Homo sapiens: one gene and its partner. The protein of the gene in region 1 purifies or fractionates together with the protein of each later gene. This does not show direct contact. Each region holds a gene or a part of one and is shown on either strand. Other genes may lie near its edges.

What was found.
Region 2: the proteins of MTCL1 (region 1) and KATNAL2 purify together in Homo sapiens (tandem affinity purification; one large-scale study listed by IntAct). This does not show direct contact.

Annotation. Positions count from the first base shown.
Region 1 is NC_000018.10:8,708,556-8,712,055, reverse strand, and holds part of MTCL1 (microtubule cross-linking factor 1), read right to left. Parts: intron 1-3,500. UniProt on the Homo sapiens protein: Microtubule-associated factor involved in the late phase of epithelial polarization and microtubule dynamics regulation.
Region 2 is NC_000018.10:47,053,602-47,057,101, forward strand, and holds part of KATNAL2 (katanin p60 ATPase-containing subunit A-like 2), read left to right. Parts: intron 1-794; coding exon 795-837; exon of another isoform or gene 838-849; intron 850-3,500.

The sequences.
Region 1 (3,500 bases):
AGCATTTTCAAAATAGGCTCATAAATGCCAACTGATTAAATCCTCCTGAAAAGCCTGTGGAAACAGAGAACATAATTAATATGTTGACAACGAGCACTCCGGCTTGTCTGACTGTCTCCGAGCACTCGAGCAAAACACAGTCTTGGCAGCCTGGCAGGGAAGGAACACACCAGCGCTTTACCAAAGTCCTCAGCATTAAGAAAGTGCCTGGGTTCAACCTACAACATGGGAGAAAATTTTTGCAACCTACTCATCTGACAAAGGGCTAATATCCAGAATCTACAATGAACTCAAACAAATTTACAAGAAAAAAACAAACAACCCCATCAAAAAGTGGGCGAAGGACATGAACAGACACTTCTCAAAAGAAGACATTTATGCAGCCAAAAAACACATGAAAAAATGCTCACCATCACTGGCCATCAGAGAAATGCAAATCAAAACCACTATGAGATATCATCTCACATCAGTTAGAATGGCAATCATTAAAAAGTCAGGAAACAACAGGTGCTGGAGAGGATGTGGAGAAATAGGAACACTTTTACACTGTTGGTGGGACTGTAAACTAGTTCAACCATTGTGGAAGTCAGTGTGGCGATTCCTCAGGGATCTAGAACTAGAAATACCATTTGACCCAGCCATCCCATTACTGGGTATATACCCAAAGGACTAGAAATCATGCTGCTATAAAGACACATGCACACGTATGTTTATTGCGGCATTATTCACAATAGCAAAGACTTGGAACCAACCCAAATGTCCAACAATGATAGACTGGATTAAGAAAATGTGGCACATATACACCATGGAATACTATGCAGCCATAAAAAATGATGAGTTCATGTCCTTTGTAGGGACATGGATGAAACTGGAAATCATCATTCTCAGTAAACTATCACAAGAACAAAAAACCAAACACCGCATATTCTCACTCATAGGTGGGAATTGAACAATGAGATCACATGGACACAGGAAGGGGAATATCACACTCTGGGGACTGTCGAGGAGTAGGGGGAGTGGGGAGGGATAGCATTGGGAGATATACCTAATGCTAGATGACGAGTTAGTGGGTGCAGCACACCAGCATGGCACATGTATACATATGTAACTAACCTGCACAATGTGCACATGTACCCTAAAACTTAAAGTATAATAAAAAAAAAAAAAGTAAAAAAAAAAAGAAAAAAGAAAACAGATTAAAAAAAAAAAAAAAAAAAAGAAAGCCTTCCATACCAAAATTCAAACCCCTCCTTTATCAGACATTGCCCTAGACTACTCAAGCCTAACATAGACTAGTTCCCAAGCTTTACTCCCTGCCCCCATTTATTGCTCCTTTATGCTACAAACATGATTGCAAGAGGGAAAATGTAATTTTTAAAATTCACTTTGGTAAAAGGGATTCCAATGATTTCATTACCACCTTAAACTTTTGTGAAAAAAAAAAACTCATCACTTTAAATTATTAAAGTGTATATTTAACCATTATTGTCATCCAGGTACACTTTCAACAGTTTTGTTTCTATTAAGGCTGTAATTATTTTATAAGGAAACATTAAATATTTACCATAATTAAAGAGAAAAAAAAAAAAAAAAAAAAAGAAAGTGCCTGGGTTTTATGAGAAGCCCAGGCCTTTGGATAACTGAAGTGCTCACCTGAATTTCTGAATACTTCCAAATGTATTTGAGTTTATCAGAGGTCAAAGGACAACAAGAGTGCTTTTCTGTCTGTGTTTTCACACAAAAGCCAGCTACCTGGATTGATTTTGCATTTTTCACCTAGTCACCCAGGCACCATTTGATGAAGGTGGAGAAGGAACAGAAAGCAGAGTCAGGGACGACCAAATTTGCTCTGTTACAGCACAACACAAGGTGTCCGCTTCTCTGTTGACACTGACTATTTAAAAAAATACAGGCCAGGCCGGGCGCGGTGGCTCATGCCTGTAATCCCAGCACTTTGGGAAGCCGAGGCGGGCAGATCACCTGAAGTCAGGAGTTCAAGACCAGCCTGGCCAACATGGTGAAACCCTGTCTCTACTAAAAATTCAAAAACTAGCTGGGCGTGGTGGCGGGCACTTGTAATCCCAGCTACTCCGGAGGCTGAGGCAGGAGAACTGCTTGAATCTGGGAGGCGGAGGGTGCAGTGAGCCGAGATCACGCCACTGCATTCCAGCCTGCACGACAAAGCAAGACTCCGTCTCAAAAAAAATAAATAAAAATAAAATAAAAAATACAGCAGCCTGGCTAAAAGCCAAGATAATTCCACTTAAATGTCCTGATCCGAAGAATATCCTCCTAAGGTTTTGCTGGACTTATTTTTCTATTGAATTGGGCTTTGGTCATTCTAGTTCAGAAACTGTCACAGTCTTGTACAACAATGATGACAGCACTTACTTGGAATGCTCCAGAATATAGCAACGTAAAATTTGTGGGCCGAGCCTCTTATCAGATACATTGGAATAGATGAATGCTATACCTAATCCTGAGAGTTAGTTCTGTGCAGTGCTCCCTAACAAAGCAGCAGGTCAAGGACGTACTTTTATCTACCCTCTTTAAAAAGTACCCCACGAGGCACAGAGGCTCAAACTTGTAATCCTAGCACTTTGGGAGGGCAAGGAGGGAGGATCACTTGAAGCCAGGAGTTCAAGACAAGCCTGGACAACATAGCCAGACCCTGTCTCTATAAAAAAATTTAAAAATTAGCCCAGCTTGGTGGTGTGTTCCTGTGGTCCCAGCTACTTATCAGGATGAGGCAGGAAGATCACTTGAGCCCACGGGTTCAAGGTTGTAGTGAGCTATGATCATGCCACTGCACTCCAGCCTGGGCCACGGAGCAAGACCATCCCTTCAAAAAAAAACCACAAAAAACGGAAAAAATACCCCTGAAAATAACAAAAAGAGAAGTTTTGATTTATAAAGGGCACACGCTAACCACCACTGCAAAGGCATGACTACTGCCTCTGCCACAGGGGGTCCCTGAAGCTCTGGGCCCAATTTTGCACATGTGGGCAGGCTCCACGACCTGTAGAAAAGTCCATTAGGATCCCTGCGTTTCCTTCCCGAATTGAACTATTGTCATTTAAGCTTCTGAGTGGCCAAATGAGTACCTCACATGCATACACGCAATCATCTGGTTTGCTAGCCTCCTTCACAACCCTCTTCTCTCCCCTGCTGTCGGAGGAACAGTGGGGAGGTGGCCTCAGGCAGAGTAAACGGATGCAAGTGACACCTTCTCCACAGTAAATGGCAACTGAACAGTCCCCACAACTGAAACACTGGCAGTGGGATTTATGTGACCATTCGTACACAGGCTAGTGGAGAGACGGGCATGACGGCCCTCTCACCTGAAAAGAAAACAGAGGGCCCCTAGAAAAGCTCACCACAAGGAACATTTTGAGCTACGAAAACAACTCAGAAGCAGTGTGCTCGGAGGAAAGCAGCCTCGCTGGAAATAGGGCTGCATCCCGGTGCAGTAAAATGGGCAGAGGCTCTGGGGAAACGCA
Region 2 (3,500 bases), about 38 Mb from region 1:
TTGACTGAGAAGTCTGTAAGTGGGGGAAGTAATTATAAACCAAGGGAGATCATTGTCCTGTTTACAAGCCACTTGTTAAGCCACAGACTTTAACATTTCATGTAGGGACCGGGAAACCAAGAGGAACATCAATTTAAAATAGCCAGGGCCAGATCTCAGAGCTAGAAAAGGTCAAAGAGGTATTTTATCTGAGCTCCCTTCCAATGCAGCATTCAGAGCTTGACTTCCTTGGCAGGTGGTTAGATGTGGGCCTTGAAGAGACAGCCCAGACTCCTAAACACAGGGTGATCAGCACTGTTAGTGACATGATCTCACTTCCAGATGGCTAGTTCCCATCTAGCATGATACCCAAATTCTCCTATGATATTGGACACGTTATTTTTATTTTAACTAGCAGAGTATGACTTCAGTGTTCCCTGCCAGATTCGTGCAATCATCCTGGTGTCCCATGTAATGCAGCAAAATGGTGTCAAGTTCATGAAAGCGTAATGAAATGGTAGCTGTAAAGCTAGCCTATATTGGAGTTGCCACCAGGTCCACAGTCTCTGACATGTTTAATATCTGAGCCCTTTGCAATCTTCCTCTGTGAGGAGATGCTGGAGAAGCTCAGGCCTCTTTCTCTTCGCTGGTAATTTCAGTTCTCTCTAGATGAGAATAGCTTAAAGTCTCTAGATTCCAATTGGTTAAAACTCAAATTTTAAGAACAATGCAAAAAGGGGAAACATACCTGAAAAAAATCACTTTGTCACTCTTAAAATTATTTTCTTTCCCTCCCAATGTCTGTTTTGTCACAGCAGAAAATAATTTACCGCAAAGAAGTAGAGGGAAGACCAGAAGGTAAAGTGAATGGTAATTCTTCTTAATCGACTCGGCTCGAGGAGCTTGTGGAATCCCTTTCCAGAAGCTTTACCATCACAGCTCTGTGACTGTCTCCCAGCAATACTGACTGCAGTCATGTGACCTGGCCCAGCCCAGGACTTCTCTCATTACAGCTGCCCCAGATTTGGGCCAATGTCCGTCTACTCTCCTGGTTTTACTGTAAATAAGTATATCCTGTGATGCTCTGTCTTTCCAGGCCATGTGGTATGAAAAGTCTTAACCTCAAAGGTTAAAAGACCCAGGTTCAACTCCTGGCTCTGCTATTTACAAGCATGGAGCAAGTTTTGGACACATAGTGAGTTCCTGGCACACAGTGAGCACCCAAGATATAATATTTTCCCTCTTTTCATCATTTAGTTAATTTCAAGCACTCCCAGATCAGATGTCCTGACCTGTCTGAAGATCAACAATGAGCCAGGAGGTGTGAGCTCAGGCTTCTGGCTTCGCCAGTCCTGACCAGTGGGGACCCATTCTTCTCTTGCTTTTCCCTCCTGTTCACAGCTCATCTTGCATTCCTTTCTCCAGCTTCTCAAGTCCAAATCTCATTTGGGGCTTGTAGCCTCTGATGGGAGCCCCTCTGTCTCTGGACCTTTTTGGGTGCACATATTCTCTCACAAGGCCCCCTACTCTTGCCAGTGTCCTTCGCATTCCTCTCGCCCCACTCCCATAGACCCCTCCACTGTCAGAGCTGTTCAGAAATACCCAGGGGAACAAGGGTGCTGCTGCCGGCTGCCAGTGAGGGCCAGCTCTGGGGCATCGCAACCTGTGGGCTGTTGCTATTACAGTAGGGCCTAAACCTCATGGAAAGACACAGCCATCCAAGCAGTCAACAAAGTGTTTAAAGTCTTAAAATGCTCTTGGAAAAAGAAAAGTTAGATTGTAATCACATGCAACTTATTAGGCCCTCAAGAGGTATGGATTCTGTTATGCCTCCGCTACATTTCCCACCCCTGCGACTCCAGTTCCCTTGTTCCAGCCTCAGAAGGAAGGGCCTAGGACACTTTACAGGGCTGGTGGGCACAGCTTGCAAAAATGGCTGTGGAGCCCACGCACGCTCCACGATCCTACTTGTTATAATACTTGGCCTCGGGCTACCTTTGCTTTGTGCTATTCTGCAGGAAGAGTTTTATCGCTTTGACAAAAGTGTTATTCTTTTATTTATAGTTTCCACAAAGTTAGTCAGACTCTGGGTAATAAATGATAACTGCTTGTGCATAGAAATCATGAGGAGCGTTTGCAGCCAGCTTCGGAAGGCTTTTGGATTCTATTTTTCTGGAACCTTCTCAGCATTCTTCCCTGGCAAATGCTCTGTGAGTGAATGGTGTCAGAGTGCTTTGTTCCCCTTAGGCAAGGAGCACCGTGGCACATTTGACAGTGTGGGGGCTCCTCAGCTCCTCTCTGAGTAGATGTTTGTATGTGGCAAGTGTAAAAGTTGAATAGCAAATGGTTAGAATCAGGAGGAATAACTAGGAAAGTAATGAATGGTGTTTCTGCGGACAATTTATACTCAAATATAGTTACTAAAATGAGACATGTCATGAGACTGGCTATTAGCAAATCAAAGTGTCTTTTCCTAATCTTGGAAAAGATTTATAATCCCCACTTAAAGATTTGCTGATGAACCAAGGGAGGAAAGGTTATCTAATGTGATGGATGACAGAAATGGGATCCCAAAAGATCTTGGCAATTCCAGAGATGGGTTCAAAGTAACAAGACGAAATTTAATAAAATAAGGTTTAAGCTCTAACAAGAGTTACAACAAATAGCTCCTCCATTACAAAATCAGAGACCTGGAAATCTCAGTTTACCTGGGCCAACAGTGTGACATGAGTGCTACTGTGGTCCCAGCCCCATCAATAGAAATACAGTGTCCAAAAAATAGGAGGTCACACTATTCTGGAAGGTGACCAGTATGAGGAACAATCTGGGAACCAGGTAACTTTAGAAATGACTAGAGCAACTGCAGATGTTGAGCTTGAACAGATGGCTGGTGGAGGGGCACTCCTTAGAACATTGCAGGAACAGGCTTCAGTTCACCCTCTAAAGGGCGATTGGGCCTTTTCTGCCAAATTCCACAGGGTGCACCTAGGACTAATGGTTAAAGTCAAAGCAGAGTGAATTTGGTTCCATGTTCAGAAGAATTTTACCATCCTCAGAACCAATTTAAAATAAATTGCATTGCTTTGTACATTAGTGCTCTTGTATTTTGGTCTTGTTAAAGCAGATCTTGGGGATCAGTTGCATCCAATGGGAAATCAAAGTGGGAATATAGAATCCCTGTTTCCTGCCAGCTCCACAAGGATGGTGAGGCAAGTTTAAATACAGACACACACACACACAAACACATAAACACACACACACACTTCCACACACACATATATAACTTCTCTTGAGTCAACACTATTAATATAAGTTTGCATTTGTAAAATGCTTGGTTTTCATTTCATAGATATTTTATTTTTGTGCCAGCAAAAGGGTAGAGAAAGACATTCTTATTCCTAGTTTAAAGATAGAAAAAAAAAACCCCAAGAACTGTTAGTGTCCACTTCTCATGACGCTCTCCCCAGTGAGACCAACACTCACAGATGTGTCACCATGTGGACATTGGTGGTGTTATCGAC